Linked DNA regions of Homo sapiens: region 2 is linked to region 1. The links come from fine-mapping of genetic effects on gene expression. A gene starts in region 1. The other region holds a variant in brackets. All regions are shown on one strand. Distances are between the middles of the regions. Region 1 holds the start of TMEM184A (transmembrane protein 184A). Region 2 has its middle 100 kb from the start of MICALL2.

Region 1 (14,858 bases):
AGAAGCCCTGGGGTCCTCGGCGCAGATGCTGGCACAGACGCTAGACTCACCCCAGCCGTGTCCTGTGAGGGGAGGTCCAGGCCCCCGGCCTTGGCAGGCACCGAGGTCCTTGTGGAGAAGAAGTGGGTACCTGTCTTGGGCGGGGCCCCTAGCCCAGCCGGACGCCAGGCCTGCCTTGTTGGGCCCCACCGCTGGGCCCCAGGGGACCCAGTGCCCACCTCATGCCAGGTGCCCCCGCAGCTCCCACCTTACTTGAGCCCAGCTGGACGCCAAGTCCGCCTCGTTGGGCCCCACTCCCGGGCCCCGGGGGACCCAGTGCCCACCTCATGCCAGGTGTCCCCGCAGCTCCCGCCTTACTTGAAGTCCCCGTCGTGGTATTTGCCAAATGCCTGGAGGATGATGGTGGTGACGGCCATGACGGGCTTCACCAGGCAGAACTGCAGAGTGGCCTGGGGGCGACGGCACCCGGTGGGCCTGGGGCCAGGTCCCCCAGGGGCCCAGGAATGGGGATTGGGGCAGCCAGCAATGAGCAGCCCCCTGACACTGGGTGGGGTGGCGCTGGGCCGGCTAGGGCCCCTGACGGGCTTGGGTGGGAGGAGGGCGGGCAGGGCTGGGTGGCCCCTCACCTGCTTACAGAAGCGCAGGAACCCGATGGAGTAGGTCATGCCCCGGAGGCAGCAGGTGCCGTACAAGCAGCTGGACCTGCGGGGGACGTCCCTGAGCCGGTGCGGGAGAATGCAGCCCCGGCGCCGCCGGGCTCCCTGTCCCAGGTGTGTGGGGTGTGGGGGCTCTGGGGTGACGGGCTTACTTGATGGGCTTTCCACGAATCTCAGCCATGATGGCGCCCTCGCCTCCCAGGTACTGGAAACACAGGCTCAGGAAGCTGTAAATGACAAAGGCTGCAGGGAGCACAGAGGGGGACCGGCTGTGAGCCCTGAGCTGCACCGGGACCCCATGGCGCCCATCTCACCAGGGCAGGAGGAGGCTCGGGAGGGGCTGAGCCCAGCAGGCCACACAGCAAGAGGCTCCTGATGGACCCCATCCCCAGCGGGGCAGCCTGAGAGGGTCAGGGTGCTCCATCAGGGCCCTGCTTTCACCCCAGGCCAGGGCAGGTCCACCGAGCCCCTCTCACGGAGGCTGTGGGGTCAGTCGTGTGTTCCAGGCCTGCCAGCGCCGCTAACCCTGACTATCCTGGCAGCCCCTCTGACGGGCCGGGAGAGTGGGGTGCCCTGGGGACTGGCCATGGAAGAGTGTGCGTGCACGCAGGCCCCGGGGAGTCTCTCCCTCCGCTCCCCCGACCTGACGCAGCCTGGCGCCCACCTTCGTAGCAGTCCCGCACAGAGTCGAAGTAGACGTAGTACTGGTGGTCTCCGAGGAGGAGGAGGCTGAGCCAGGAGTCGAAGGCGTAGATGGGCACGATGAGGAGCAGGCGGATGATGTAACGTTGCTCCTGTGGCACGGTGTAGGAGCGCAGGTGCAGATAGATCTGGGCGCAGGAGGGGTCGCATGAGAGCCGGGCCCGCCTGGTACCCCTGGACCAGCCCAGGTGAGCCGGGAAGGAGGTGGGGGTGGGTGCAGGAGGGTTTGGGTGAGAGCCAGGTCCACCCGGTACCCCTGCACAAGCCCAGGTGAGCCGGGAAGGAGGTGGGGGTGGGCGCAGGAGGGTTCGCGTGAGAGCCGGGCCCGCCCTGGGCGCAGGAGGGTTCGCGTGAGAGCCGGGTCCACCCGGTACCCCTGCACCAGCCCAGGTGAGCCGGGAAGGAGGTGGGGGTGGGCGCAGGAGGGTTCGGGTGAGAGCCAGGTCCGCCTGGTACCCCTGCACAAGCCCAGGTGAGCCGGGAAGGAGGTGGGGGTGGGCGCAGGAGGGTTCGGGTGAGAGCCGGGTCCGCCTGGTACCCCTGCACAAGCCCAGGTGAGCCGGGAAGGAGGTGGGGGTGGGTGCAGGCCACCAGGCACCTTCTATGTTTGCATTTTCTAGTTTTCTACAATGGGCATCCTTATTACAATTAGAGAAAATAAATTGTTTGCCTATTGTAATTAGATACATACTTTTATACGTATTTACTATAGAAGTACATATAAGTATGAATGTATATGTTAAATACATATTTCTGGTTACAACTAAAAATAATACACATTTGAATAATTGACTTTTTATGGCCGGGTGCAGTGGCTCACACCTATAATCCCAGCACTTTGGGAGGCCGAGGTGGGTGGATCATTTGAGGTCAGGAGTTCAAGACCAGCCTGGCCAACATGGTGAAACACAGTCTCTACTAAATACACAAAAATTAGCCAGGCATGGTGGCGCGCGCCTGTAATCCCAGCTACTAGAGAGGCTGAGGCAGGAGAATCGCTTGAGCCTGGGAGGTGGAGGTTGCGGTGAACCAAGATTGCGCCACTGCACTCCAGCCTGGGCGACAGAGCGAGACCCTTTCTCAAAAAAAAAAAAATATTTTTTTGAGAAACATGGTCTCGCTCTCTTGCCCAGGTTTTTTTTGAGACAGGGTCTCGCTCTGTCGCCCAGACTGGAGTGCAGTGGTACAATCATGGCTCACTGCAGCCTTGAACTCCCGGGCTCGAGTGATCTGCCTACCTCAGCCTGCTGAGTATTGGGACTACAGGTGTGCACCACCTTGCCTGGCTAATTTTTGTATTTTTTGTACAGACAGGGTCTCACTGTGTTGCCCAGGCTGGTCTCAAAGTCCTAGGCTCAAGGGATCCTCCTGCCTCCGTCTCCCAAAGTGCTGGGACTATAGTCATGAGCCACTGCACCTGGCCTAAAATTTATTTTTTAAATTGGCAAATCAAAATTGTATGCATTTACAGTGTGCAGCGCGATGTCTGATATGTGTGTTCGTGGGGAATGGCTGAGTCAAACCCATTAACGTCTCCATTATCTCCCATACTTAGCATTTCTTTGCGGGGAGGACATGTAAAATGTACTCTCTTGGCAATTTTCAAGCATAGAATACATTGTTATTTATAACAGTCACCATGTTGTACAATAGGTTTTTTTTTTTTTTTTTTCTGAATAAGTTCCTTGGGCATGAGTGAGGGTCCTGTTTGTTCTTAGCCTGGGAATGGGAACGCTCACTCATTCCTTCATTCAGCAGGCGTTTCTAGAGCCCAGCTAAGTGTCCAACCCGGGGGACGGAGAGGGGACACGTCCCGGTCCTGGGCTGGGCAGACTCTCAGAAGGCACATTGGCTTTTGCTGTGGGGGCATCCAAAGGATGTGCACCCTTTGATTCCTAAGAATTTGTCCCTCCCTAGGGGCCAGGCACGGTGGCCCACGCCTGTAATCTTAGCACTTTGGGAGGCCAAGGTGGGCGGATTACCTGAGCTCAGGAGTTCGAGACCGGCCTGGTCAACAGGGCGAACTCCATCTCTACTAAAAAATACAAAAATTAGCCAGGCGTGGTGGCGGGCGCCTGCAGTCCCAGCTACTCGGGAGGCTGAGGTGGGAGGATGGCTTAAATCCGGGAAGCGGAGGCTGCAGTGAGCACTGATTGTGCCACCGGACTGCAGCCTGGGTCACAGAGTGAGATCCTGCCTAAAAAAAAAGAAAGCCTGGGAAAAAGTATGGGTGATTATAGTAGTGTTTGCCTTTAAACCTTTCTAGATTTTCCACGTTTTTATTTTTTTTAATTTTTAATTATTATTTTTTTTATTGAGACGGAGTCTTGCTCTGTTGCCCAGGCTGGGGTGCAGTGGCGCAATCTCAACTCACTGCAACCTCCGCCTCCCGGGTTCAAGTGATTCTCCTGCCTCAGCCTCCTGAGTAGCTGGGATTATAGGCGCGCACCACCATGCCCGGCTAATTTTTGTATTTTTAGTAGAGACAGAGTTTCCCCATGTTGGCCAGGCTGGTCTCAAACTCTTGACCTCGGGTGATCCACCCGCCTTGGCCTCCCACAATGCTGGGATTACAGGTGTGAGACACCACGCCTGACCGATTTTCCATGTTTTCTGTGAGGATACAACTCAACTACAGGGTCTTTGAGACAGGGTCAGCCGAGCCTGGGAGCTGGGCGCACAGGGGCTCCTGGGGAAGGCCTTCTGGAGGAGGTGCATGCGTGGCGGTGGGCGAGCAGAGGCTACGTGCACCTGGCCGCTTGGGGTGCAGCTCAGGGAGTTGGGGGAGGTTGGAGGCAGGAACAGACTCTTATCAGTCACACGCTCCCCGATGGTCCCTGGGAGGGACGGCATGACCAGCCATCAGGAGACCTCTCCCGGGGCTGGCGCTGCCTGGCTGGGTGACCTTGACAAGCCACTGTCCTCTCCGGCCTCGGTCCTCCCATGTATAAAGTGAGGGGGATCCAGCCACTCTGTGTCCTGCCTGGGACTCCTCACTCAAGGGTGACTCTGGCGGTGGGCTCAGGGGTGGGACAGGGCCTGAACTCCAGCCCAAGGGGTCTCCATGAGCCCTGTCTTGACTGCGAGGCCCCATGAAGCTAAAGCCACACTACAGCCGCGCACACACAGCCGGTTCCCAGGATTACAGCGGAAAGACGGCCTCCTCCGGGAAGCCCTCTCTGATGGCCTTACAGGAAGGGCCTGCCTCGGCACTGCCTCCGCGGCTCTGCACACTCCAGGCCACACTCATACACGTCTACCGTGGGTTCTGGTTATCTGTTCACAGCTCACTGCAACCTTGAACTGGGCTCAAGCGATCCTCCCATCTCAGCCTCCCAAGTAGCTGGGACTAACAGTGCAGGCCCCCATGCCCGGCTAATAAGCAGTTAATAAACTGTCACTGAGATGCTCCCTCGGAGACTTGTGGCCACCGGTGTCCCTGCCTGCCAGTCTCCTGATGGCCCCCTGCCCCAGCTCACCTACAGATCCATTCCCTACACCAGTGCCCCGTGCACCCGGGAAGCAGCTCTGCCCTCAGCCCAGCCCTCCACAGCCTTCCTGGGCTCCCAGCACCCCCTGAAAGCCACCTCACCGCACTGGGGTCAAGGGCTCTGGACAAATCCCTGCAGCCGTGTGGCCCTCGCGGGCCTACACACGCACTCCCACCCCACCCCTGCGCACACCGCCCTGGCCTCTCTGTGTATCTGAGTCTCTCAGGAGGGTCCTGTCCCTGACTCCCTGCCCTCTCTGCCCAGCCCCTGCCCTCGGGCACCACTTCCTCCTTGCCCCTGCCTGGCCCTTCCTTGCCACAGCGCCTGGCCGCTTCTCTACCTGGGGGCTGTTCTGTTCCCACCTGGGGACTGCTCCGGGTCGGGGGCTGTGTGTGGCTTCGGGCTTGGGGAAGTTGCTTCTCGCCCATCTCCTGCACAGGAGTCCCGGTCCCTCTAACAAGCTGTGACCTTTGCTCCCCAGCTCCCTACAGAGCAAAGTCCAACCCCCTGCCAACCTCCCACCAGCCTTCTCCAGGGTGTCACGCCTCTGGAAGGAGAAGGCCCCTTCCCCTTTCCAGCTATGTGAGCCTGGGAAAGACCTCTGGTCTCTCTGAGACTCAGTCTTCTTGTCTGTGAAATGGGACCACACTGCAGACCTCAGTGAGCCGAGTGACGAGCCTGTGAAATAGCCAGGGGTGCCCGGTGGGCGCTCTGCCCTCAGCCTGGCAGAGATCTCCCCATTTTCAGGCCCAGCTCCCACATGCCACATCCTGGGGAAGCTCATCCCCTCCCCCGTGCCCTGGCCGATCCCACTTCTGACAGCGTCTATAGCAGCGGCACCCAGGGGGACCGGGCTGAGCCACGGCCACGTCCTGTGGAGACCAAGGTCCTGAAGGAGGCTCGGGGGCGGAAGGGCTTACCTGGTGGCAGGTGAGCACCAGGGCAGTCCACACGAAGATCCCCGAGACGCCTCGGGCCAGTGCGGAGGTGAGGAAGAGCCAGGGGGCCCCCTGGGAGCTGTTCCCCATGTGGTCCATCTGCGGCCCAGCTGGCACAGCCGGTGGGGGGCTGGGCTGCGGCCAGTTCGCTGACACCAGGGGGACGCCGGCTGTCTCCAGGATCCCTGAGACATTACTCATCTGCAGAGGGAGGGAGGACACACACCGGGAGGAGTGAGGGCAAAGGTACTGGCTCCCGGCAGCAGGAAGCAGCGGGGGAGGGAGGAGACAGTGAGACGGGAGCTGAGGCTGAGCCACCCACCAGGCCGCACCCCCCACACGGACACCAGCGCCAGGCCCGGCTCCCTCCCTGCTCCGAGCTCAGCCATCGAAGCTCACCCATCAACCACCTGCGACCTGAGGGTCCCACCTCAATTCCCCCTTGTAAAACCAGCTTCCAACTCCGAGTCTCAGGCTTGCAGGGAGCCTGCTTCTTAGGGGACAAAGACCGTCTTCCAGTGGGGCAGAAGAGGGGGAACCCCTGCCGCCCTGCCTGCCCGGGAGGGCTGGGGAGCGGGCGCAGACCAGCACTGCCTGCCCCGGCAGGAGGGGGTGTGCAGCCACCCTCATGGGAGGAGCCGGCCCTCACTGGCTCTGGGACCTGTCCACCCACCTGGGAGCCCGGCTTTGCTGGGGTTCTTGGCAGCCCTGGGTGCCTGTTCCATCTCCCACTAACCTGCTGGGGCCCTGAGTCCACCCTCTCCCACACTCGCAGCCCAGTCCAGCCTCCTCCTCTCCCTCTGGTCTGCGGTCACAGGGCCCAGCTCTACCTTTGCTGGCAGGAAGCACCTGGCCCAGTCCAGGGAGGCCTGGCCTCCAGGGAAGCCTAGCTGGTCATTCTCATGGCCACGTGGCCCCAACTGGAGGCCCCACTGTGGGTGCGGCAAGGCCAGGATCTGAAGGGCTGTGCCAGGCTGGGGCGGGGCGGCCAGTGCCTCACGTCCCCAGTGGCCCACCTGGGCCCCAGGCTGCAGGCCCGTCCCCTCCTGTCCCCTCCCACGGCTGACACCCTATCCTCCCGGTTGTTTGCTGGGTGGCAGCTGGCTCCCAGGAACCTGCTGGCCGCCTGGCGCCCTCACCTGCCTATGCCAGACGGCCAGGCAGCTGCCACCTGGTGGGGACACGTGGGAGAGGTCTGCGGCAGGCCAAGGAGGGCCGGGCTGCAGGAGGAGGGGTGGAGAGCTAATGGTACAGGGTTTCTCTGGGGGGTGACAGGAGTCCTGAAATGAGGTAGAGGCGGCAGGCACACAGCACTGTGGATATACTTACCGCCACCGAATCGTTCACTTAAACCTGGGTAAATTGATGTTATGTGAATTTCATCTGAATTAAAAAAAAAATCCACGCCCCAAGAGATGAGTTGAAAACATTTGTTTTCTGGGCCGGGCGTGGTGGCTCACGCCTGTCATCCCCACACTTTGGGAGGCCAAGGTGGGTGGATCACTTGAGGTCAGGAGTTCGAGACCAGCCTGGCCAACATGGTGAAACGCCGTCTCTACGAAATACGCAAAAATTAGCTAGGTGTGGCAGCGTGCACCTGTAATTCCAGATACTCAAGAGGCTGAGACAGGAGAATCGCTTGAACTCAGAAGGCGGAGGTTGCAGTAAGCTGAGATCACACCACTGCACTCCAGCCTGGGGACAGAGGGAGACTCTGTGTCCAAAAAAAAAAAAAAAAAAAAAAGGAAATATTTCTGGTTTTTGTGGATCAAGGCAGGAGAGGGGGAGTGACAGCCCAGTCCCTGGACCCTTTGGGGTCTGGCAAGGGGTTGCGGGGCCCTGAGGGTCCCTGTCACCCCCATGCAGAGGCCCCTGTGGAGAAAAAACTCACTCACCCCGGCTCCTGGGAGAGGGATGTGGGCCCTCAGCCCACCTCTTGTCCTGTTCTGGTTACGCTTGGGCTCATGCCGCTGGGGCCACCATTACCAAGTCCCGCTCCATGCCCGCAACGGATCCACACACTCCTTGTCCTTCATATCTCCTACCCTCCCACAGCCCTGAGCAACAGGGCTCAAGGGGTTGAGGCTGGAATGACTGGAGCCACTGTTCCCCTTTTATTTTTAATTAATTTATTTTTTGAGACGGAGCCTCGCTCTGTCGCCAGGCTGGAGTACAATGGCGCGATCTCGGCTCACTGCAACCTCCGCCTCCTGGGTTCAAGTGATTCTCCTGCCTCAGCCTCCCGAGTAGCTGGGATTACAGGCGCCCACCACCACACCTAGCTAATTTTTGTATTTTTAGTAAAGACGGGGTTTCACCACGTTGGCCAGGCTGGGCTTGAACTCCTGACCTCAGGTGATCTGCCCGCCTCAGCCTCCCAAAGTGCTGGGATTACAGGTTTGAGCCACCACGTCCGGCCTGTTCCCCTTTTAGAGATGGGAACGAGAGGCGCATCAACGCGTCCAGCATCCTTGAGGGGTCCGTGAGGGGCCCGGGCTGAGGCCCATCCTTCCCTGGGACACCCTGCCTGCTTTTCCCAACTCCTCCACTGACACTGTCCCTCCAGGGAGGCTCCCAGGTGGGGAACAAGCTCAGGAAGTCGTGCCCAGCTCTCAGGCCCGCCTTGCCTAACCTCCCCATCAGCGCCCACCCGGGCCCGGGCCCAGAGCCACAGCATGCACACCCTGGCTGGGCCCTCCTGGAGCCTGCCTGCTCCCCAGGCAGGGACCTTCTGGACCAACCGACCCTGCTCCCGGGTGACTCTGTCCTGCAGCCTCAGGCGTCACCTCTGGAGAGACCATCCCCGCTGTCCCATCACCCTCCTCACTGTGTGTGTGACTCCCTGTCCACCTGTCTGTGTTTGCTGCTGGTCCTCCCTCTGCAGGAGCTGCCAGAGCCTAGAGCTGTGCCCTGTCCATGCTCGGGGCACAGGGCTTGCGGGGTGGGGGCTGTCCTGCTGAGGCGGTGACCCTGTGGGCTAAGGTCTCCCTTTGGCCAGGCAGGGGTGCTGGAAGGCGGTCCCCAACTTCCATCCAGCTGCATTCCCACTGCAGCCACAGGTACTCCTGCCGGCCTCCCACCCGGCCTGCAGAGCCCCAGGCAGTCGGCTCAGCGCGTGTGGATGTCGCCCTCTGGCTGTGTCGGGATCACCGTCACGGACAACTATGAAGTGACGATGGCTGGGGGCCCGTTTGAAGGGTGAAGACTTTGGTGCCTGGGCATGCGCAGAGCTGGAAGGGACCGGGAATCCCCTCATCCAACTCGCTCATGCTACAGGCAGGGAAACTGAGGCCCCAGCCCCTGCTTGATTTGCGTCCAGCCCCCAGCACAGGATGAAGCCTCGGGCCCCTCCCTGGGCTGACGGTGGGAATGGCTGTGCAGACAGCAGGAGGCACTGTGGCTAGATGTCAGCAGGACCGTTTTGGCTGGAGCCAGCAGAGCCAGGCTTCTGGGAGGGCTCTGGCTTCGGGCAGGCTCAGGGCTTGGGCCCCGGACACAGACTGAGGGACCTCCAAAGCTCTGTCTTCCGCCAGAGGCAGATCCTCTGTGGAAAAAGGTGGGGTTTTCTCACAGGGCCAGCTGGGCACTGGACAGGGAGGCCTGCTGATCTCCTCAGCCCACAGCTGTCCCGGCTGAGCCAGATGCGCCAGCTCGGGAACCGTGGACCAAGTGTACTGGTCTGGGGATGTCAGGAGCAGGGCCTGGTCCCCAGGGAGGGGCAGTCGGGAGGTTGACCGCTCTGCCACCTGCTCACAGGGCTCGCCGGCTGATCGAGGCCTCACCCGGTGCTGGTGTCACAGCCTCTGCGCCCGGTCACAGGAGGCGGCAGGGCCGGCTGGGCCTGATTTTTCTGGCGGGGGCGGGACACTGACCAAGCCCATTGCAGGACAGACCTGTCTGCCCAGATCCAGGCGACGGGGCCCTCTGACCATTGTTCACTGCGTCCAGGTGCCCAGAGCTGTGGGGAGGCTGAGAAGCCGCCCAGCCAGTCCCACACCCTGGCCCTGGCACAGCCACCTCCTCCTGCTCTCATGAGAAACCCGGCTGAGGGCCCATGAGCTGTTGCCTGGTTCCAGGCCGGCTGCCCTGCTAGTGCCCACCCCGACCCCCTGCCTGCCCGTCTCTCTGCAGATGCGGACAGGCATGGTGTACCCCCCTGCCTGCCTCCTTCACTGCTGGGTGGAACTCGGGGCGCCCAGGAGCCGCCTCCTCAGGGCTGGCTCATTTGATGTCCCAGGCTGAGCTGCACACTAGGGGGATGAGGTGACCGGTGGGCACCCATCTCAGACACCCGGCTTCCCAGGTCCCGCGGCCCTCCCCTGGGGGCCCTGGCCAGCAGTTCACCAAGGCAGCAGCCCCGGGTGTGAGCAGGGGGTGACAGGGATGGGGCTCCACATCCTCCCGGCTCTGCTTCTGGGATTCCCCCGGCTCCTGTCCACGGGCACGGCCTCCTGAGAGCCGCGTGGGGCGGGCAGGCAGCATGGCCTCCTGGTGACCCACATGCCCCCTCCTCACTGGGGCCGGGGAGCAGCCCCCACAGCCAGGAGGAGCAGGCCCTGGACCACATGCCACAAGCTGGGGCCTGGCTCTGGCTGTGTGAGGTGTCTGTGACCTCAGGCAGAGCCTATGCCAGCCTGGGCCTGTCTCCACCGGCAAGAGCTATGCGGCAGGTCAGGGAGGCCGGGCCAGGGCCTCAGGTTGGCCTCCCTGTCATCTGCCCTTCTAGGGACGTAGGCTGCTGCATGGGAGAGCCAGCCTGGCCAGGCCCTGGGACTCAGCTCCACTGTCTCAGCTGACCTGGCGACCTGGCAGGTCATAGGGGGGCGCTTGCCTCAGCTTCTGACTCTCGAGCAATTCTGTTCTGCCTGAGCCCATCAGCCCCAGATCCCAGGGTGGGGCCGTCCCAAGGATCTGCTCTCTTCCTCCCATAGGTCTCCCGTCCTGTCCTCCGGGGCCAAGCCCCCACCTCCCTGCTCCTGTCCCTGGTCCCTCTGTTGCCCCCATCCCCAGAAAGTCACCCAGGGCCTGCCTATACTTGCCTTCACCTGAGGGAGCTGCCAGCCCTGGGCGTGTACGGGTCGGGGGCACCCTTTCATCTGGAGCCAGGATGGGGGGTGCTCGTCTGGCCTGGACTTGCCAGGCTGGCTGGAGACCCTGTTTGGTGTCCAGGTGCCGTCCTGGGGCCCAGCCTCTGAGGTGGCGGTGAGGCTTAGGGGTTGGCGGACTGTGATTCTCCGAATTTCAAGGTATGTTTTTTTTTTCGAGGAGCCCCCCACCCCATTGAAGTGCAGGGGCTCAGCCTGGACACCATACCCCTCTGGTATGCACCCCCTTCCCCCACACACACACTCTCGCACTCCCACACCCACGCAGCTCACCTCCCTGGTGGCGCTCAGCCTGTCAGGCAGGTTGGCTGCAGGTCTCTGGGCCTGAGGGGGGGGCCAAGGCGGGGTGGGCCTGAAGCTCGGCCCCCGGCCTCCTGGCCTCTGCTGCCGCCTCCTCACAGCGGCGGGCAGCCTGGGTCCCTGAGAGATGATTGCTCCTGAGCAGTGGCCTCTCCCCAGACCCAGGAACTCCTCCCAGCCCCACCCCCTCCCCACCCAGCCAGCCCTACCTGCCTGGGTACAGCTGGCACGGACCACACCCTCCACCTTCCCCCCTGCCCGGATTTTGGGACCCACATCTGTCCACGTGCCACCCCTGCCTCCTGCCATCCCAGCGGGTGTGAGCCTGGACCAATCTCCCTGTCCGGTGGATTTCAGACGTGGGACCACAAGTGGGCTGGGGTCCCGATGCCCCTTCACGAGTGACGCAGCCCCTGCCTCCCCTTCTTTGGCCCCCTCACCCCTGAAAAGTCCCATTCGGGAGCCTGAGGGTGTCGGGACACGGATCGCCACCAAGCTCTGCCCCTGCCCACGCACGCCTGCTACCCGGGTGACTGGAACGTGAGACGCACGCACGAGCTCCTGTGGGCCTGGAAGGTTGGGTCTCCCACCCGGGTGGGGCAGGACGAGCCCCTGTTTGATGGGGGAAGCTGAGTCAGGAGCTGCAGGCCCCTGGCTAATGGGTGGGGGGCAGGGTTGGAGCTGCGGTTTGTTCCCCCTTCCTGGGCTAAACCTTGGGTGGGGGGCGTCAAGCATGGCCCTGGACCCTGATCTTCCCTCCTGTGAAGTGGCCTCCACGGCGCTTCCCCTCCTGGGTGGGCGGGGTGAGGTCAGACGGGCAGGGCAGGTGCGTGTCCCAAGTCCTGTCTGCGAGTTCCATGGAATCCTGCTTAGGAACAGCACTGCTGGCTTCCCTTTCCTTGGAGACCCCTCCCTCCCTCCCCTGCCTTTCCTTCCAGACCCAGTGCCCCCTCCCGTCCTGTGTCCTAAATCATGCCCAGCTAGGGGCAGCTGACCTCTGCCCTCCTCAGGCTGACACCCACCTTGCCAGTGAGCAACTCCCAGCCCAGCTTCGCGCCTTCAGGTGCCGGGGCTCACGGCTTCGTGCAGCCTATTTCGGGGTGTTCTGGGGCCCACGAGAGCAGAGTCTTCATCAAAACATCCCCAGATGTGTGCTTCTTTCTTGCTTCTTCTTTTTTTTTTTTTTTTTGGAGACAGGGTCTCGCTGTGTCACCCAGCCTGGAGTACAGTGGCATGATCTGGGTTCACTGCAACCTCTGCCTCCCTGGCTCAGACCATCCTCCCGCCTCGGCCTCCCAAAGCGTTGGGATTACAGGCGTGAGCCTCGCACCCGGCATTATTTCTGAAAGCGAATCTGAATCCCCAGAGCTCTGGCGCCTTTGGTCTTCTCACAGTTGTTTTGGAATTCACGCATCCTCACTCTCTGCCGGAGCCACCCCTCACCACACACAAGACGGGGTTTGTTGTTTTTCTCGCTGCGATGCCAAACTATAAAACCAGCGTGGCAGGGTGCCTCCCTCAGTCATCTGCACATCATTCCGCTGTCTCTGGTTCATTCCCATCGGTCAGGCCCTCATTCCAGTCTTCCAGTCACTTACCGGGCCTCCTGTTCCAATTCCATTCCCAGGCACTCAACAAGATAGCCGAGGCCAGCTCACTCCGCTGGTCCCCACGTGCCACCGTCTCCCTCCGCAGGTCATTTGTCATCATCCGTCCACGTGGGCCCAGGGCTCTGTCAACCCCCTGGAGAAGCCGCTTGAAATGACAGCCAAGAACAGGGCCCCCACTGGCTCTTCTTGACCTCCAAGGCCCCCAGGTCCACTTAGGAAAAGGGGGTGGTGGGGAGGCTTGGGGAGATTCCCTCGCAGCTGAGCAGAAAACAGTGCTGGACGTCGCACTGTGTGGGCGCAAGGGCATCGCCTTAAAGAGTGAACACTGTCCACTGTCTCGGCCGCAGCGGCTGCCATGGGCCCCGTGTTCATCACTCACAGTGAGCCGTGAGTGTCTGGGAGCTGCGATTCCAGCTGGATCTCTGGGTAAAAACCACAGGCAGCTCATCCTCCTAAAGGAGCAGCAATCCCCAAAGCAGATGGCCCTGCCTGCAACCACAGCTGGCTCCACAGAGCTCCTCGCTGGAGCAGGGGCTGCTCAGGAGTGATGAGGCTGGGAGCGGGCCCAGAAAGCAGAGGGCCGGGGCCCTTCCACAGCTGCCGCCATCTGATTTACAGCACAGGAGCTAGCTGGATGGCGGAGGTGCTTAGCCTTGGTCTGTGTTGTTACCGGCTGCCAGGCGGCTGTGAAGGAGGACCTCGGGAGGGCACTGGGGGGCCAGTCTCAATTATATGCCCGTTTCGGCATCGCCTTCAAGGCGGGTGGCCGTGGGACCCTGCACATGACATGTGGCAGAGCTGTGTGGACATCCCAGGAGCCTCCAGGCAACCTGCCCGCCCCTCCTGAGCCTTAGCTTCTCCACAACCTACCTTTATTTTTTTTACGAAATTAATTTTTTTCTTTATACGCTTTTTTAGATATAGAGATGGGGTTTCCCCATGTTGCCGAGGCTGGTCTCGAACTCCTGGGCTCAAGCAATCTGCTTGCCGCAGACTTCCAAAGTGCTGAGATTACAGGCACATGCCTCCAAGCCTGGCTTTTTGTACTTTTAGTAGAGACGGGGTTTCGCCATGTTGGCCAGGCTGGTCTCGAACTCCTGGCCTCAGGTGATCTGCCTGCCTCAGCCTCCCAAAGTGCTGGGATTACAGGTGTGAGCCACTGTGTCCGGCCTTCATGACTTACCTTTGAAGGGCAGTCATGAGGGCCCAATTAGACAGGACAGGCCTCCCAGGCCTGGCTCTCAGGAGCCAATGCTCTCCTGAAAACAGTCCCGCACCAAAACAGTGCCGCACCAGACCAGCAGGCGTGGAGGCAAAGCCAACCTTGGCCTTGGCAAGAACCATTGCCCTGGTGCAGTTGCGGCGTGAAAGAAAAGGAAGCCGTGGCCGGGCACAGTGGCTCAAGTATGTAATCTCAGCACTTTGGGGGGCTGAGACAGGCGGATCACCTGAGGTCAGGAGTTCGAGACCAACCTGAACAACATGGTGAAACCGCATCTCTACTAAAAATAGGAAAATTAGCCAGGCATGGTGGTGTGCGCCTGTAATCCCAGCTACTCAGGAGGCTGAGGCAGAAGAATCACTTGAACCCAGGAGGCAGAGGTTGTAGTGAGCTGAGATCCCGTCACGGCACTCCAGCCTGGGCGACAGAGTGAGACTCCGTCTCAAAAAAAAGGAAGCCATGAAGGAGAACCACGGGGGCCCCTGACTGGGGGATGGGGGCTCCAGGGCACCCTGCATGGTGATTCCAGCTTCCCCACTCTCTGGGGTGCGGCCTGCTTCCGTGTAAGGAAAATGCGGGGAGCCACTCACGGGGTGAGGATTGAATGGGCAGCCCTGGTGGGAAGGGTGATCCCACGGCCAGTGAGCAGGTCTACTGTTATCGCTAAGGGACAGGTCAGGAAGCACAAGCCGCAGACCCGCATCCGGACTCACACTGGAGCCCCGTCCACGCCGTGTCCCCGCTGGTTACATGAGAGAAGCTGTGGCTCTTCCACAAAACTGTCCGGTTTTTATAGGTGGAGACAGGCATGTATTTAGACAGGCATGTATGTAT
Region 2 (14,858 bases), 200 kb before region 1:
CCGGCGCGGGAAGAGCCCAAGGGAACAGGTGCAATGGGAACCCAACGGCTGGTATCTCGGGGAAATCTGAAGTGAGCCCAGGAAGGTGGCCGAGGCTCAGAGCCGGGGCAGGAACCCGTGCAGGGGTAGAGAAGGAGGCAGGGACAGCTGGACCAGGACTGGAGGCAGGACAGAAGTCTGTGCATGGGAATTGGGGCGGGGGACACAGGAAGGTGGGGTGGGGGCTTCCAGCAGGGGAGATTTCTCAGCTTCCCCAGGAGGGAAGGAGAAGAGGGAGCCGGGCCTCCCGATTCTTCCCCCAACCTCCTGCCTCCGCGTGCAGGCAGGGCTGCCCCAGCTGGAGTCTCCAGCACAAGGTGAACCTGCTGCTGAGCCCCTGCCCTCCCTGCAGACCTTGCGGGGAGCTGGGCTCCCGGCTGGCTGTGCCCTTGCTGTGTGACGGTGGGCAAGGGCCTGCCCTCTCTGTGCTCCTGCCCCGTCTGGTTCTGTGAGCTCCATGGGAACAGGGCTACCACCCACCAACCCACTGCAATGCAGATAGAGGCTGGGACTCGGGGAGGCTCCGCCATGGCCCTAAGCGGGGGTCCTGCTGGCCTGCAGACTCTGCCTCCCAGAGCCCCTCACCCCGCCCCCACCCACCATCAGCTCCGTCTGGAATCGACACACTTCCTTCTGAGAAGTGATGCATGGCTTCCCCGTCAGATTTACAAATAACTTCAAATTTTACCGTTTTCTTTCCCTAATGAATTCTCTGAAGCGTGTTCCAGGCTCCCCGGTAATGAGCAGGATGCAGAGGCCTCCGTGCAGCTCTGTCTCCCGGCCTGCCTCGGCGAGGCCCTGCTGAATTAGCCCAGCCCCTCCCGGCGCGCAGCCCGGGTGCACCCTCGTTTAGTGCCCTTGGTGGGAATCCATTGTATTGACAATCTCCACTGGTGTAATTCCTGCATTAGGATTTTGTGCTAAACTGTGTTTTAAAAGCGCTCTGACCCCGATTACCTCTTTAATTGCACTTAAAAATCCAGATTAATTCAGAGGCGAAGTCAGCCACGCTGGGAAGGGGGCCTTGCTGGGCCCACACCACGGATGGTTCCCCGGTTTCTGGAGATGGCCGGTTCCCCAGGGTGGTCTCTCTGCACCGCCTCGAACTCTCAGGAAGCCTCGCTTGGAGCTGCCGGGAAAACCTCTAGCTCTGGGAGACCTGGAAGAGAATAAGAGCGTCTCAGGAGCGCTGAGCTGGTGCTGGCTTCGCGAGCCACGCCACGAAGCCAGGTAAACACAATTGCTGCTGTTCTCATTTTATAGGTGGGAAAGTTGAGGCCCAAGACTATCTCCAGCCCCGAGATCAGCAAGTGGGTGGGTGGAGCTGGGGCAGCTGTGGCTGAGCCTGCTGGGCCCCCAGAAGAGGCTGGGTAGGGCTTTCCGTGGCCTCTGGTCCTTCCTGCCATTCTTGGACCCCAAAGGGGCTCCAGGGTCCTCCAGTCCCACTCTCCCATGTTACAGGTGGGGAGACTGAGACCCACCAGCCACGGCTGTCACTGGGCCCATGGAGAGGTGGTACGCCGGCCGAGGCCAGCTGGGGAGGCCTGTCTCCGTGATAAACACCTGCCCCTCATCCTGCATGCTGGCTGTCCACGGAATGAGTGGGGACCTGGGGGCCGACCAGGCTGGTCCCAGCCCTGGCTCCTCTCCTGACTGCCTTGGACGAGCCCCCTCCCCTCTTTGAGCCTCAGTTTCTCCATCTGAACAATGGAATCCTGATCCTGAGCTTGCAGGTCTGTTGGGAGACGCGGATACAGCACCTGGTGGTCTGTGCGTGGCATCAGGGGACTCGGGGGCCACTGCCCTGGCTGTGATTCCTGCCCCATTCTGCCCAGCCCCGGGCGGGGGTCAGTGAGGTGCTCCAAGCCCTTGGGGTTATCACGAGGCATCCGGCCCTACAGCACAACAGATGTTTTTTTTCCTTTCACCTTCACCTCGTTTGGAGACAATAATACTTCTACGAACATGTGTGCACAGGCTTTTATGTGGATGTGTGTCTTTATTTTTTTCTTTTTATAATAAGAAGTATTATTTTTAATCAAAACAGAGCTGGAGTAATGTCTTCGTTTTTCCTGGGTAGATACGTGGGAGTGAGATCGTTGGGTCTTATGGTAATTCCACATTGAACATTTTTAAAATCTCCCAAACCAGCTGGGGGTGGTGGCTCACGACTGTCATCCCAGTACTTTGGGAGGCTGAGGTGGGAAGATCGCTTGAGCCCAGGAGTTCAAGACCAGCCTGGGCAACATAGCAAGACTGTGTCTCTACTGAAAATTTAAAAAATCATCCCAGCACTTTGGGAGGCTGAGGCAGTTGGATCACCTAAGGTCAGGAGTTCGAGACCAGCCTGGCCAACATGGTAAAACCCTGTCTCTACTAAAAACACAAAAATTAGCTGGGCATGGTGGTGCACACCTGTAATCCCAGCTACTCGGGAGGCTGAGACAGGAGAATTGCTTGAACCTGGGAGGCAGAGGTTGCAGTGAGCCGAGATCGTGCTACTGCACTCCAGCCTGGGTGACAGACTGAGACTCTGTCTCAAAAAAATAAAAGAATAAAAAAATAAAATTAGCCGGGCATGGTGGTGCACATCTGTGGTCTCAGGTCCTCAAGAGGCTAACATGGGAGGATCGCTTGAGTCCAGGAGTTCAAGGCTGCAGTGATCTGTGATTGTACCACTGCATTCCAGCCTGGGCAACAGCAAGACCCAATCTCAAAATAAACAAAAAGAAAGAAGAAAAGAAAAAGAAAAAACTCCCAAACTGTTTGTCAAAGTGGATGCAACCTTTTTCCCTGCCTACCAGCAGTGTGCTGGAGTTCTGACTTTCCAATTTCTCCTCCTCACCAATACTTGTCAATATCTGTCTGCTTTATTTTAACCGTCCTAGTGGGTATGAGGGGCCATCTCATTTTAATTTGTGTTTTCGTGATGGCTGATGGTGAGTATCTTCCTGTGCTTATTGGCCATTTTTATATCATCTTTGGAGAAGTGTCTCCTCAAATCCTTTGCTTATTTCAAAAATCGGGCTATGTGTTTCTTTGTTATTGAGTTACAATAGTTCTTTATATATTTTAGACATAAGTGTCTTATCAGAAATACGTTTTGCAAAAATGTTCTCCCGTTTTGCAGGTGGTTTTTTTCACTTTCTTGACGATGTCCTTTGAAGCACAAAGCCTTCTAATTTTGATGAAGTCCAGTGTATCTCTGTTTTTCTTTTTTCTCTCGTGACTTTCATATCATATCTAGGAAGGCTTGGTCTAACCCAAGATCACAAAGATTTACTCCTGTGTTTTGTTTTCAGAGCTTTATAGCTTCAGCTCTTACGTTTAGGTCTGTGATCTTTTTCTTTTCTTTTTTTTTTTTTTTTTACACAGGGTCTCACTGTATCACCCAGGCTGGAGTGCAGTGGCGTGATAATAGCTCATCCATACCCGCCCACTTGCTGACCTCAGGGCTGGGGATACTCAGTCTCTGGGCCTCAAGTCAAGCCCATGAAGTCAAGGCTTCCCGGGCGCAGGTGATCCTCCCACTTCAGCTTCCTGAGTGGCTGGAACTACAGGCGTGTGCCACCACGTTCAGCTAATTTTTAAGTTTTTTATAAAGATAGAGTCTTGCCATATCATGCAGACTGGAGTGCAGTGGCATGATCATAGCTCACTGCAGCCTCAAACTCCTGGGCTCCAGCGATCCTCCCACCTCAGCCTCCCAAAGTGCTGGGATTACAGGTGTGAGCCTCTGCGTCTGGCCCCTGTGACCTATTTTGAGTTAATTTTTGCATGTGGTGTGAGGCCGAGTCCACCTTCACACTCTTGCCTGTGGACGTCCAGTTGTCCCAGCACCGTCTGTGGAAAACGCCCATTGAATGCCCTTGTTGGAAAAAATCAGTGAACGAGTGTGTTTATTTCTGGTCTCTGAATTTTCTTTTATTCCCTTAATCTGCATGCGTGTCTTTACCCCAGGACCACACTGTGTTCATTACTGCAGCTTTGTAGTAAGTTTTGAAATCTTAGTAGGGGGTGGGGGCGAGGGGCAGCTGAGGGAAAGGCCACAGCCGCTGGAGTCCCCTGGCCCTCAGTTGGGGCCACCCAAGCTGCCCGGCCACTGGAGGCTGGGAGGGGCCCATTCCTGGTGGTCTCGGGACAGGCCTGGAGGCCCTCGGCTGTGGTGAGCCAAGATCTGCAGGGGGACTCGGGGCTGACCGAGCTGGCCCAGAGCAGATGGCGGCTCAGCGCCCAGGCTCAGGGCGTCCATCCTGCGTCCCATGAGCTATGGCTGCCGACCCCGATGGGTGCCGCGCTTTCCAGTTTGCTCCCTCCCGCGTCTCTGCTGACCATCCCCACCTGTAGGTGAGCACACAGAGGCTTGGAAGGTACTGAGGGTTTGTCTCTGCCCTGCAAGTCACACAGGGGAGTCCCCAGTCCCCTGGGCAGCATACGGGCCTCCCACGGGATCCCAACCCACAGCTCCTGGAGAGTCCTTTAGGACAAGACCCTAATGCTGCCCCTGAGGCCTTTGGGGCCTCAAACTCCAAAGAGAGAAGAGGCCATTCCCTGAGCAGGGGAGCCGCTGCGGCCGGGCCTCCTGCCCTAACACGCACGCCCGACGTGCTGAGCCAGTGCAGCGGCCCCACAGGTGCAGGCCCCCGCCCCCAGCTCCACACCATGCCCCCAGTACAGGGCCAGGACCTCCCCAGGCTAAGCTCCCGCTGCGTCCCAGAGGGATGTAAACCCCAGAGGGCCCCAAAGGAGCCCACGTTTGCCCCAACCTGTACATTCTATGCTCAGGTTTATAACCAGAGCTTCCAAGAGGAATCTGGGCAGCCACCGCCCACCCTACCCCACCCCTCCCTACATGGATAGCTACAGGCAGGGCCCAGGCCCCCATCACTCTCGGCCACCGGCACACAGGTCCAGGCCCTCGCCTTCTCCCAGGGCCCCCAATGCCTCTGCCAGGAAGCCTCCCCCACAGGCTGAGTTATTTACTTTCCTTAATAACCTTTTATGAGGGGCCTTGCCGCGGCCTTCAGGAGGACAGGGAACCGGCTTCGAGGTCATCCTTTGGCCGGGATTTTATTAACTTCAAGTCAGGCTCGAGGCAGGTGAAGGAGCCTCTCCTCCACCCCAAAGGGTTGTGAGGCGCTCCAGGTGAGGTGTGACTGCCCTGTTCAATTAAATCCTCCGTCTGCACCTCGGCCTGGGTGGCGGCGGCGGGCAGGAGACCCCGCAGCAGCTTCCGCGCGGCATGTCCCCTGCCCACCGCCTTCCCCACCCACTGGGCTCTGAACAGCAGACCTGGGGTTTCCAAAAAAATCAACTGTCAGCCGCGCGCGGTGGCTCACGCCTGTCATCCCAGCACTTTGGGAGGCCGAGGTGGACAGATCACCTGAGGTCAGGAGTTCAAGACCAGCCTGGCCAACATGGTGAAATCCCGTCTCTACAAAAAAAAAAAGAAAAAAAAAAAGTAGAAAAATAAGCCGGGCATGGTAGTGTGCGCCTGTAATCCCAGCTACTCGGGAAGCTGAGGCAGAAGACGCGCTTGAATCCAGGAGGTGGAGGTGGCAGTGAGCTGAGATTGTGCCACTGCACTCCAGCCTGGGCAACAGAGCAAGACCCCGTCTCAAAACAAAATAATAATAAAAATAAATTGAAATCGAGAGGAACGTTAGACAAACCCGAATTGATGGACATTCTACAAATATCCTGCCTGGACTTTTTGAAAATGTTAATTGCAGAAAAGATGAAGAAAGGCTGAGGGTCCCAGGCTGAAGGAGATGGGAGTGGTGTGCAGAGACAGCACCCTGTGGCCGTGGGCTGGATTCGGGACTCGGGATATGGTGGGATAAAGGGCATGATTTAAATGTGGGCCATGGAGCGGCCACCATCAACAAGACCTTGTCTTATTCTGCTCTAGTTGGTCACAAATGCAGAACCTCGGGCCCTGTCCCTGGCCAACTACACATTTTTAATTTTGCTTTTTTTTTTTTTTTTTTTTTTGAGACAGAGTCTCACTCTGTCACCCAAGCTGGAGTGCAGTGGTGTAATCTCACCTCATTGCAACCCCTGCCTCCTGGGTTCAAGCGATTCACCTGCCTCAGCCTCCTGAGTAGCTGAGATTACAGGTGCCCGCCACCACACCCAGTTAATTTTTGTATTTTTAGTAAAGACGGGGTTTCACCATGTTGGCCAGGCCGGTTTTGAACTTCTCACTCACCTCCAATGATCTGCCCGCCTCAGCCTCCCAAAGTGCTGGGATTACAGGCGTGAGCCACCTGTGTCCAAACCCTGGCTCGTTTCCTTGCAGGGCAATCTGTTTCCTCCTGTGTCTAAGCTTTGTCACCTGCGACATGGAGGTGCCTGAGGCACAGGCCTGTCGGGGATCCTGTATGGCCATGGTGTTGGTGACAGTGCAGGCAGGGGCAGGTTCCCGGCGAGGCTCTCTGAGCCCAGGCCTCTGCAGCTCACCGGGCAAGTACGGTTTCTCCGCTGCCCTGTCCATAGGCGCCACGCCGACCCCAAATCATTTGCACCCAGCACCTCTGTTTGGTGAAGACGATTTTGCAAACAGCAACTAGTTTAGATATCTAGAATGTTTCCCCAAAGCCTAGCACCCTTCAATTCCACCCTTTAATCACAATGAATAAAGCTGCACAGGACGTTGACTTCAGTGACGCAGGCGCTGGGGTGCCATTCTGTGCAGAGATGTTAAGGAAAATGCTTGGGAAACGGTTATAGCAAAGCATCAGCTCCCTCACCCCTTGCTCAGCACTCTGTGTCCAGGCCTTGCAGGTGCTGAGGACGCCCCATACCCAGGACGGCCCACCATGCCCAGGGAGCTCCTCTGCTGATGCCCACTGAGCCGGGAAGCACTTCCGTGCATGGCCCAGCCAGGCGGGAGAGTGCATTTGCTTTCTAGACGGAAGCAGGCTCCTTGCTCACCATCCCACGTTGCCCCTGGTTACCCTCCTCGCCCGGCCCTCTCCACAGTCCTCTGAGCAAGTGGGGGCCATCCCATTGCACGAATGGCCCAGAGCGGTGCATACTTTCCTGAGGCTGCCCAGACTGTGAGGGGTCAGGGGCACAGGGCTTCTGTCTCCAAGCTGCCTTGGGGCTGCTCCCAAGGGTGGGTCTGGCCCTGTCGGCCCCGCAGGCCCGCCTATCCCCACCCCCTGCTCACCTGCCCTGCACCTGCCGCCCCTCCCCTCGGGGCTGCCCCCGTCCCGGTCTTCGGCATCCAGCCTGGGAAGAGCCACCCAGCTATTTACCATGGACTCATTTAAGTTGGTTAATTTTTAATAATGTTGAAATTTCCATGTGAATAATTCAGGTAAATTATTTATTAAAGCGCAGGATAAAGGGACCAGGACAATTACCAGCTGACAGTGTTAGCTGCGGCATGGTGAGGTGGGTGAGGTGGGCGCGGTGCAGGCGGGAGGGAAGGCCTGCGGATGGGCGGTGTCACACTGACCCTCACCCTGGACACCAGGCCTAGGAGGGCTTGGCAGGGATGCCCTCCAAACCCTCTTCTCCCTCCACGGCCCCACTAACAGCCTGGCCACCTGA[C/G]CCTGCAGCCAGATGGCCCCTGGCTCCCTCCTGAGCTCCATGCACCCACCTCCAGCCGCTTCCCTTACACCCCTGCGGCCCCTCTGGCATGAGGGAAGCCTGGAATCCGTCTGCCGAGGCCGGAGGGAAGTTTTCTATGCACCAATCTCATTCCGTCAGCCCGAGTCAGCCCCATGGCAGTGACTGACCATTGCACTTAGATAGGACACCCTGGACCCTGCGAGGCTCCTGGGGCCTGGCCAGCCTCGCTCCCCACTGCAGCCCGTGGCAGCCACTGGCTCCTCTGTGACCCTGCATGGCTGTTCCTCCTGCTGGCACAACGCTCCCTGAAGCCTCGCCCGCCCCGCCCACCATTCCAGCAGGAAGGGGCGGCAGCCACACCAGTCTGGGCGGTGTCCTCTGCATGTCAGCCAGCCCCTATGGGGTTCTGTGAGTTTGGCCCGACAGGCAGGGCAGGGGCTGCCCCAGAAGGGCCCCTCGACATCGGGAGCTGCCCCTCTGCTGCCCCCTGCCCAGCTGGACAGTCACCTCCACCCTCCCAGGGACTCCTGGCCAGCGCCCAAGAGCCCCCAACTCTGCTCTTTCCACACCCCTTACCCCACCAAGGCACCCAGGCCTGACGCCTCCTCTCTGTGGTCACCTGGGTCACCGTTCACGCCATCTCCTTGCTGCCTCCCGCCTTGTCCTCAACAGCCCTGAAGTCCGTCCTCCACTCAGCTTCTCAGGTGGTTCTCAAAGGTTAACACAACCATGTCCCTCCTGCTCCAAACCCTCCATGGCTCCTGAGTGCCCCTGGAATAGAGCCCAGGCTCCTCCGGGATCTGCAGGTGCCGCCTGCCTCTGCCATTCTCCGTCAGCCCACGTCAAGATGCCCCAAAAACATGAAACCCATCCAGATCCCAAAGTCCCAAAGACACAGTGCCAAAGAAAGTGTAAAACTTCTCAACATTGTGATTCCACGGCAAATGATAGTATTTGGGATAGGTTGAATTACATAAAACACATTATTAAAATTAATTTTACCTGCTTCTTTTGTTTTCTTCCTTCCTTCCTTCCTTCTTCCTTCCTTCCTTCCTTTTTTTTTTTTTTTTTTTGACAGGGTCTTACTGTGTCATCCACGCTGGAGTGCAGTGGTGTGGCCTCGGCTCACTGCAACCTCGACCTCCTGGGCTCAATGGTTTCTCCCATCTCAGCCTCCCAAGTAGCTGGGATTACAGGCACATGCCACCGTGCCGAGCTAACTTTTTTTAGTCTCACTATGTTGCCCAGGCTGGTCTCAAACTCCTGACCTCAAGTGATCCGCCTGCCTCAGCCTCCCCAAGTGCTGGGATGACAGGCGTGAGCCACCGCACCTGGCCTTCATTTTCCTTTGCGGTGCCTGTCACCTGCGTTATTATCATGGACATGTGTGTATCTGGTCACTGCCTGTCCGTGAGCAATGTGAGGACAGGAATGTGTCTGTCGTGGTCCCTGCAGTGTCCTCAGCACACAGTAGGTAAATCTTCAGCGCACAGTAAGCATAGCTTCAGCTTCAGTTCAGGACAATCGTGTCAGCAACACATAGTAGGTGTGCAGCACACAGTAGGTAAATCCTCAGCACACACTAGATAAATCTTTAGCACACAGTAGGTCAATCCTCAGCACATAGTAGGTAAATCCTCAGCACACAGTAGGTAAATCCTCAGCACACAGTAGATAAATCTTCAGCGCACAGTAGGTGAATCCTCAGCACATAGTAGGTAAATCCTCAGCACACAGTAGGTAAATCCTCAGCACACACTAGATAAATCTTTAGCGCACAGTAGGTAAATCCTCAGCACATAGTAGGTAAATCCTCAGCACACAGTAGGTAAATCCTCAGCACACACTAGATAAATCTTTAGCGCACAGTAGGTAAATCCTCAGCACATAGTGGGTAAATCCTCAGCACACAGTAGGTAAATCCTCAGCACATAATAGGTAAATCCTCAGCACACAGTAGGTAAATCCTCAGCACACAGTAGACAAATCTTTAGCGCACAGTAGGCATTTCCTCAGCACACAGTAGATAAATCTTTAGTGCACAGTAGGTAAATCCTCAGCACACAGTAGGTAAATCCTCAGCACACACTAGATAAATCTTTAGCGCACAGTAGGTAAATCCTCAGCACACAGTAGATAAATCTTTAGCGCACAGTAGGTAAATCCTCAGCACACGACAATTGTGTCATCAACACATAACAGGCGTGCAGCACACAGTAGGCATTTCCTCAGCACACAGTAGGTATGCAGTGCCTGCAGGAATGGAGCCCTGGAGGTCTACTGGACGGGGCAGCACTGCAGCTGGGAGTGGAGGAACCTGAAGGAGCAGACTGGGGGGCCCCACGAGGGGCCACGGGACACCCAGGGAGGGTGGGGAGCTGCTTAGAAGAGGTTGGAGCCCAGGGAGGGCCTGGGTGGGACTGTCACGGGGCGAGTGGAGAGATGGGCTGTGGGCCGAGACCCAAGGCTATAAACTGGGAGGGGCCGTGAGCCCGCCCACGGGGAGCAGCGATCCACAGCCGCCTCTGTGGAGCCCGATGTGTCTCAGCCCTTCCTCCCCTACGGGCCTCTCCATTTGCCGCCTCACACGTCTGCAACACCTTCTCTCGGAGGCCTCATAGGAACCCGGGTGGGAGACTGGGTTCTCCCCATTTTCCAGATGAGGACGCTGAGGCCCCAGGCGGCACATGGAGCCAGGGCTCATGCCCAGGTGTGTGCAACCCCAAAGTCCTTACAACCCGGCCCCACACTCCCTCACAGGCAGAGGCAGAAGTACCCCAGAGCCTCCTGCAGCCTCTTCCTGAGCCTGGGAGGAAACTGAGGCAGAGCCGGGCAGTCCCTGCTGTGACCCCATACGGAGCATCTCCCCAGAGGCTGGTTTTGCCCGAGGCCAGGAATCCCAGACACAGACCCCCAACCCACGACTTGGGCGCTGACCTTCCCAGGTGGTCACATGAACAGGTGCTCTCTTTTATGAAAACTCAATGCGTGTGGCCCCAGCCCCTCCCACCCACCCCAAAGCCGTCGGCCTCCTGCGACAGCGGCGCCCTGACTGCCTCCTCCGGCCACGGCCCCTCCTGCTTTAATTACCAGCATCTAGGGCAGCCGGCACGCCAGGCGGCTTCGCACTAATTAAAGTGGGGGCTTTACAGGATGGCGCCGTCCCCCCAGGCCCGGGAGACCTCACAGCGCCAGTGACCCACAGGCCAGATCATTCCCGAGTTAAACAGGCAGAGACCAGGCCTGGAGCCTGCAGCCAGGTAGGTGATGGGTGGAGGGGGGGTGCTGGGAGCCGAGGCTCAACCCCACCCTCTGCTTCTCTGCCCTGCAGCCTTGAGACAGTGACTCCACCCCCCTGTGCCTCAGTTTCCTCCCCCGTCCTGTGGAGAACACCTGGGCACTCTCAGGATTCATCCATTGCTTAGACAAACACCACAGTAGCGAACATTGCTGAGCCCTCTGACCACTCTGTGTCCCCACCTTGCAGGAAAATGGTGGATTCCTGGGGCAGGAGGAGGCAGTAGGGGTTCCCAGAGGGGCAGGAGGGGTTCCCAGAGGGGTGGGGGTCCCTGGCTGCAGTGCCTGGGTGGGCAGCCCTCTTGGGCCCCCTTTATGTGGTTCTGACCTCACTGATCAAACCCTGAGCCCAGGCCGACGACACGGACCCTGAAGGTCCCCAGGGCCCCTCCCTGAGCCTGCAGGCACATCCCTGCCCCACCAAAGCTCAAACCCACCTCTCCTGGAAATCCCCACCGCATGTGCTCTCCCGGGAGCTGCAGAGCTGAGGGGAGAAGTCCGCTGTGACATCCACTGTGAAGTCCGCCGTGAGCCCCTCGGGCAGGCCTGGGTCACACCCCACCTTGTCTCTGGCTCCTAGGGCGCAGTCCAAGGCATGGTTCGGGGCAGGTGACGGGAAGTTTTTTTTTGTTTGTTTTTTGTTTTTGCTTTTATTTGGGAGAGACAAAGTCTCACTCTGTCACCCTGGCTGGGATGCAGTGGTGCAATCTCAGCTCTCTGCAACCTCTACCTCCAGGGTTCAAGCGATGCTCCCATCTCAGCCTCCCAAGTAGCTCAGACTACAAACGTGTGTCACCATACCCGGGTAATTTTTTTGTATTTTTAGTAGAGATGGGGTTTCACCATGTTGGCCAGGCTGGTCTCAAACTCCTGACCTCAGGTGATCCGTCTGCCCTGGCCTCCCAAAGTGCTGGGATTACAGGCGTGAGCTACCATGCCTGGCCAGGTGTCAGGAAGTTTTTGCTGAATGGAATGAGTGAGGGGCCACCCCCAGGGATCCTGGACTGTGCCCACATTAGAGGCACCATTTCGATTTCATGGTGTGGCCCGGGGTGGGGCTGGGCAGCTGAGACAACGCCCATGACGCCAGGGCAGGGCTGGGGTACAGGTCTCCTCAGATCCTGTCTCCCACCCTGCTAGAAAAACACCCCGAGAAGAGCTGATCTGTGGGTGTGGGGCCCACCAGGAGGGAGGTGGGGAGACTGAGGCAGCACAGGGTGGGTGAGGACCAGCCCCTTGGGGGCCTCCTCTCCTAGGGATTGTAGCCTCCCCACCTGGCCCCAGGACATGACTGGCTACTTCTGAGAAGACCCTCAGCCCATTCCAAGCCTCTCTGCCTCTGCTGAGCCCCAGGGGCTCCCCACGAACCCCCTCTCCTCTGCTGGTCCATCAGATGGCTACGGAGCACTGTTTAAGGATGTACAGACGCCCCACACCCCAGGTCCAGATGCCCCATGTCCCGGGTACAGACACCTCACGCCCGGGGTCCAGATGCCCCATGTCCCAGGTACAGATGCCCCACATCCTAGGTACAGATGCCCCACGCCCCGGGTCCAGACGCCCCACGTCATAGGTCCAGACGCCCCACACCCTGGGTCCAGACGCCCCACATCCCGGGTCCAGACACTCTAATGGCCTGTTGCTCACTCCCAAAGGTGTGCATGAAGGGTCTGCATCTGTGTTGGAGGCTGGGGTCAGTGCTGGGGGCGGTGGGCACTCAGTGCAGCCCAGCCAACCTGACTCTGCTCCACGAAGTCATCCAGGACCCAGGATCCTCCCCACCATCGCTCTGAATCGTCTACAGCCTCAGTCCAGCTGAGGGGAGAGGACGGAGACCTCCCGGAAGGTGGCACAGGACACCACGGTGAACATGGCCTCAGCCCTGCACCTGCTGGGTGAGTGGGGAGGCTGCAGCAGGAAGGCCCTGAACCAGGAAGTTGGGGAGAATGCAGGTTCCCCTGGGGCACCCCCCATCAAAGGGCAGAGAGCTGGGGCCAGGCCAGAGCCACCCTCACCGGGCCGCCCAAGGGCTCAGCGGCACCGCTGTGAAGTGGGCATGGGCCCAACCCCTCTGGGAGCAGCGGGGATTCTGGGGCCCTGCCTCTGAGGGTTGCACTGGGGCCCCACGAGAGAAGGCTCGCAGGGAACCTGGGCAGGCCACCTGGGAGGCTGGGGCCAGGCTTCCTGGACCCCACCCCAGCTTCACCACTTACTGGCCTTGGGCAGCTGCCTGGCCCCTCTGAGCCTATCACTGTCCCCATCTGTCAAATGGGATAATAATGATTGCAAAGTGCTGGAAATCGGAATTATTGATACAACAGGGCCACAGTCTCACCCTGGCACTGGTTCATGTTGATTTCTGGCTACGGGAAGGCCTGCACAGGTGCCCTGGAAGTGCTGGGTGCCTGCAGAGGGCCCCGGCCCCCTGGGACAGAGCTGGACTGCAGGTCCCCATGAGGCCATTTCCAGGGAGAGGGGCCCAGCTTGTCCCTAGGTGTAGTGTCCATGGAGACAAAGAGGATCCACTGCCCCCAGTCTGGGGGTCACGGTGACCTGGGGCCCCAGGAGGGAGCCTGAGGGGGGCAGGAGCTTCCCAAGATCCAGCCTCAAAGGCTGAGTCCCTCAGATAATAATAATAAGATTATTAAAAATAATCATCAGGCTGGGTATGGCAGCTCACGCCTGTAGTCCCAGCACTTTGGGAGGCTGAGGAGAGAGCACCATTCGAGCCCCAGAGTTCAAGACCAGGCTGGACAACACAGCAAGATCCCATTTCTATATAATAAAATAAAATTTGCCAGGCGTGGTGGCGCCTGCCTGTCGTCCCAGCGGCTCGGGAGGCTGAGGCGGCAGGATCGGCAGAATTGCTTGAGCCCAGGAATTGGAGGCTGCAGAGGACCATGATCACGTCATTGCATTGCAGCCTGGGTGACAGAGCAAGACCCCAACTCTGAAACACAAATAAACACTTCTAAAAAGAATAACCAGTGGAACAATCAACATGGAGGGAGGCCTTGGTGCCGTGTCTCATTCGATTCTCACCCCCTCCCCAGGAGGGAGGGACTAGAGTATCCTGGTTTCAGAGATGAGGAGGCTGAGGCCAGAGAAGCTAGGTCGCTTGGCTGGTGCTGAGACCTGCCCGGGTTTTGGGAGAGCAGCCTGCAGCCCCCAGGGCCCCTGGCTGACGTCTAACAGCCGGAGCCGGCCACCGGGCCCCACGCCGGGAAGCATCTCTGGGAAAACTCGTCTTACAGATTTGATTTAATCACGGAGTGCTGATTTTTGCAGAGCAGGTCGTGACCCTGGTCATTTTGTGAAAATGAATTGCCTGGGAAAATGGAAATTGTCACTTTATTATAGGATTAAAAAAATTCAATCCCATTTGAATCAAATGGGAAATAGGGCAGGCCCGTGTCCTTCCATCCCCCATTATTAGTGAATTGGGGTCCGTGGGAGAGCTGGGTGGGATTTCATGAACAGGATTTAATTCGATCCTCTACCCTCCAAGCTGGGGTTGCCCTGAGTGGGGGTTTCCAGCAAAAAAACCCACCTCCCCCTTCCCCCACTTTCCTTCCTCAGCCCCGTCTCCCCTCCAAGGGACTTCACAGACTTTCTAGCCAGGGACCCCTCTGCCAGTGCCCCAGGCACAGCGACTCCAGCCCCCACACTGGGCCCAGGCTGGTCCTGCCCCAGGGTGCCAGTCCCCTCTCAGGCCTCACATCCCTCCAACCGGGGCTGCTTCTGCGTGAAGACCCGCCCAAGGGACGCTGAGGGGTGTGTGCCCTGACCCAGGCCAGCATCCGATTGTGTGGTCAGATATGAGCCTCCACCCTCAGGGAGTTGGGAACACAGTCCAGCTCCCTCCCATGGGGCCAGACACACCGGGCGCTCAGCAGATCCCTGCAGGCTGGCCGGCACGCCGAAAGCAGTGAGAAGCTGTG

Evidence for each region. PIP is the estimated chance that this variant, and not a neighbour inherited with it, causes the effect. A credible set is the group of variants that fine-mapping cannot tell apart.
Region 2: its variant is the best candidate, but not a certain one, in a credible set for the expression of TMEM184A in prostate (GTEx, PIP 0.88).

Annotation. Positions count from the first base shown.
Region 1 is chr7:1,549,497-1,564,354 of GRCh38, forward strand. TMEM184A (transmembrane protein 184A) reads right to left here and starts at 6,709. Exons shown (of 9, transcript NM_001097620.2): 1 at 6,618-6,709; 2 at 5,770-5,988; 3 at 1,321-1,486; 4 at 809-899; 5 at 627-702; 6 at 358-449. The coding sequence starts at 5,988. RefSeq lists silencers at 5,235-5,417, 6,785-6,854, 6,895-6,984 and enhancers at 5,527-6,327, 5,897-6,191, 6,328-7,127, 10,352-10,852, 10,853-11,353.
Region 2 is chr7:1,347,835-1,362,692 of GRCh38, forward strand. No RefSeq gene overlaps it. Among named protein-coding and RNA genes, the nearest start is that of MICALL2, 100 kb to the right of the region's middle. RefSeq lists silencers at 3,345-3,545, 10,008-10,057. The variant C/G (reference allele first, on the strand shown) is at 7,600.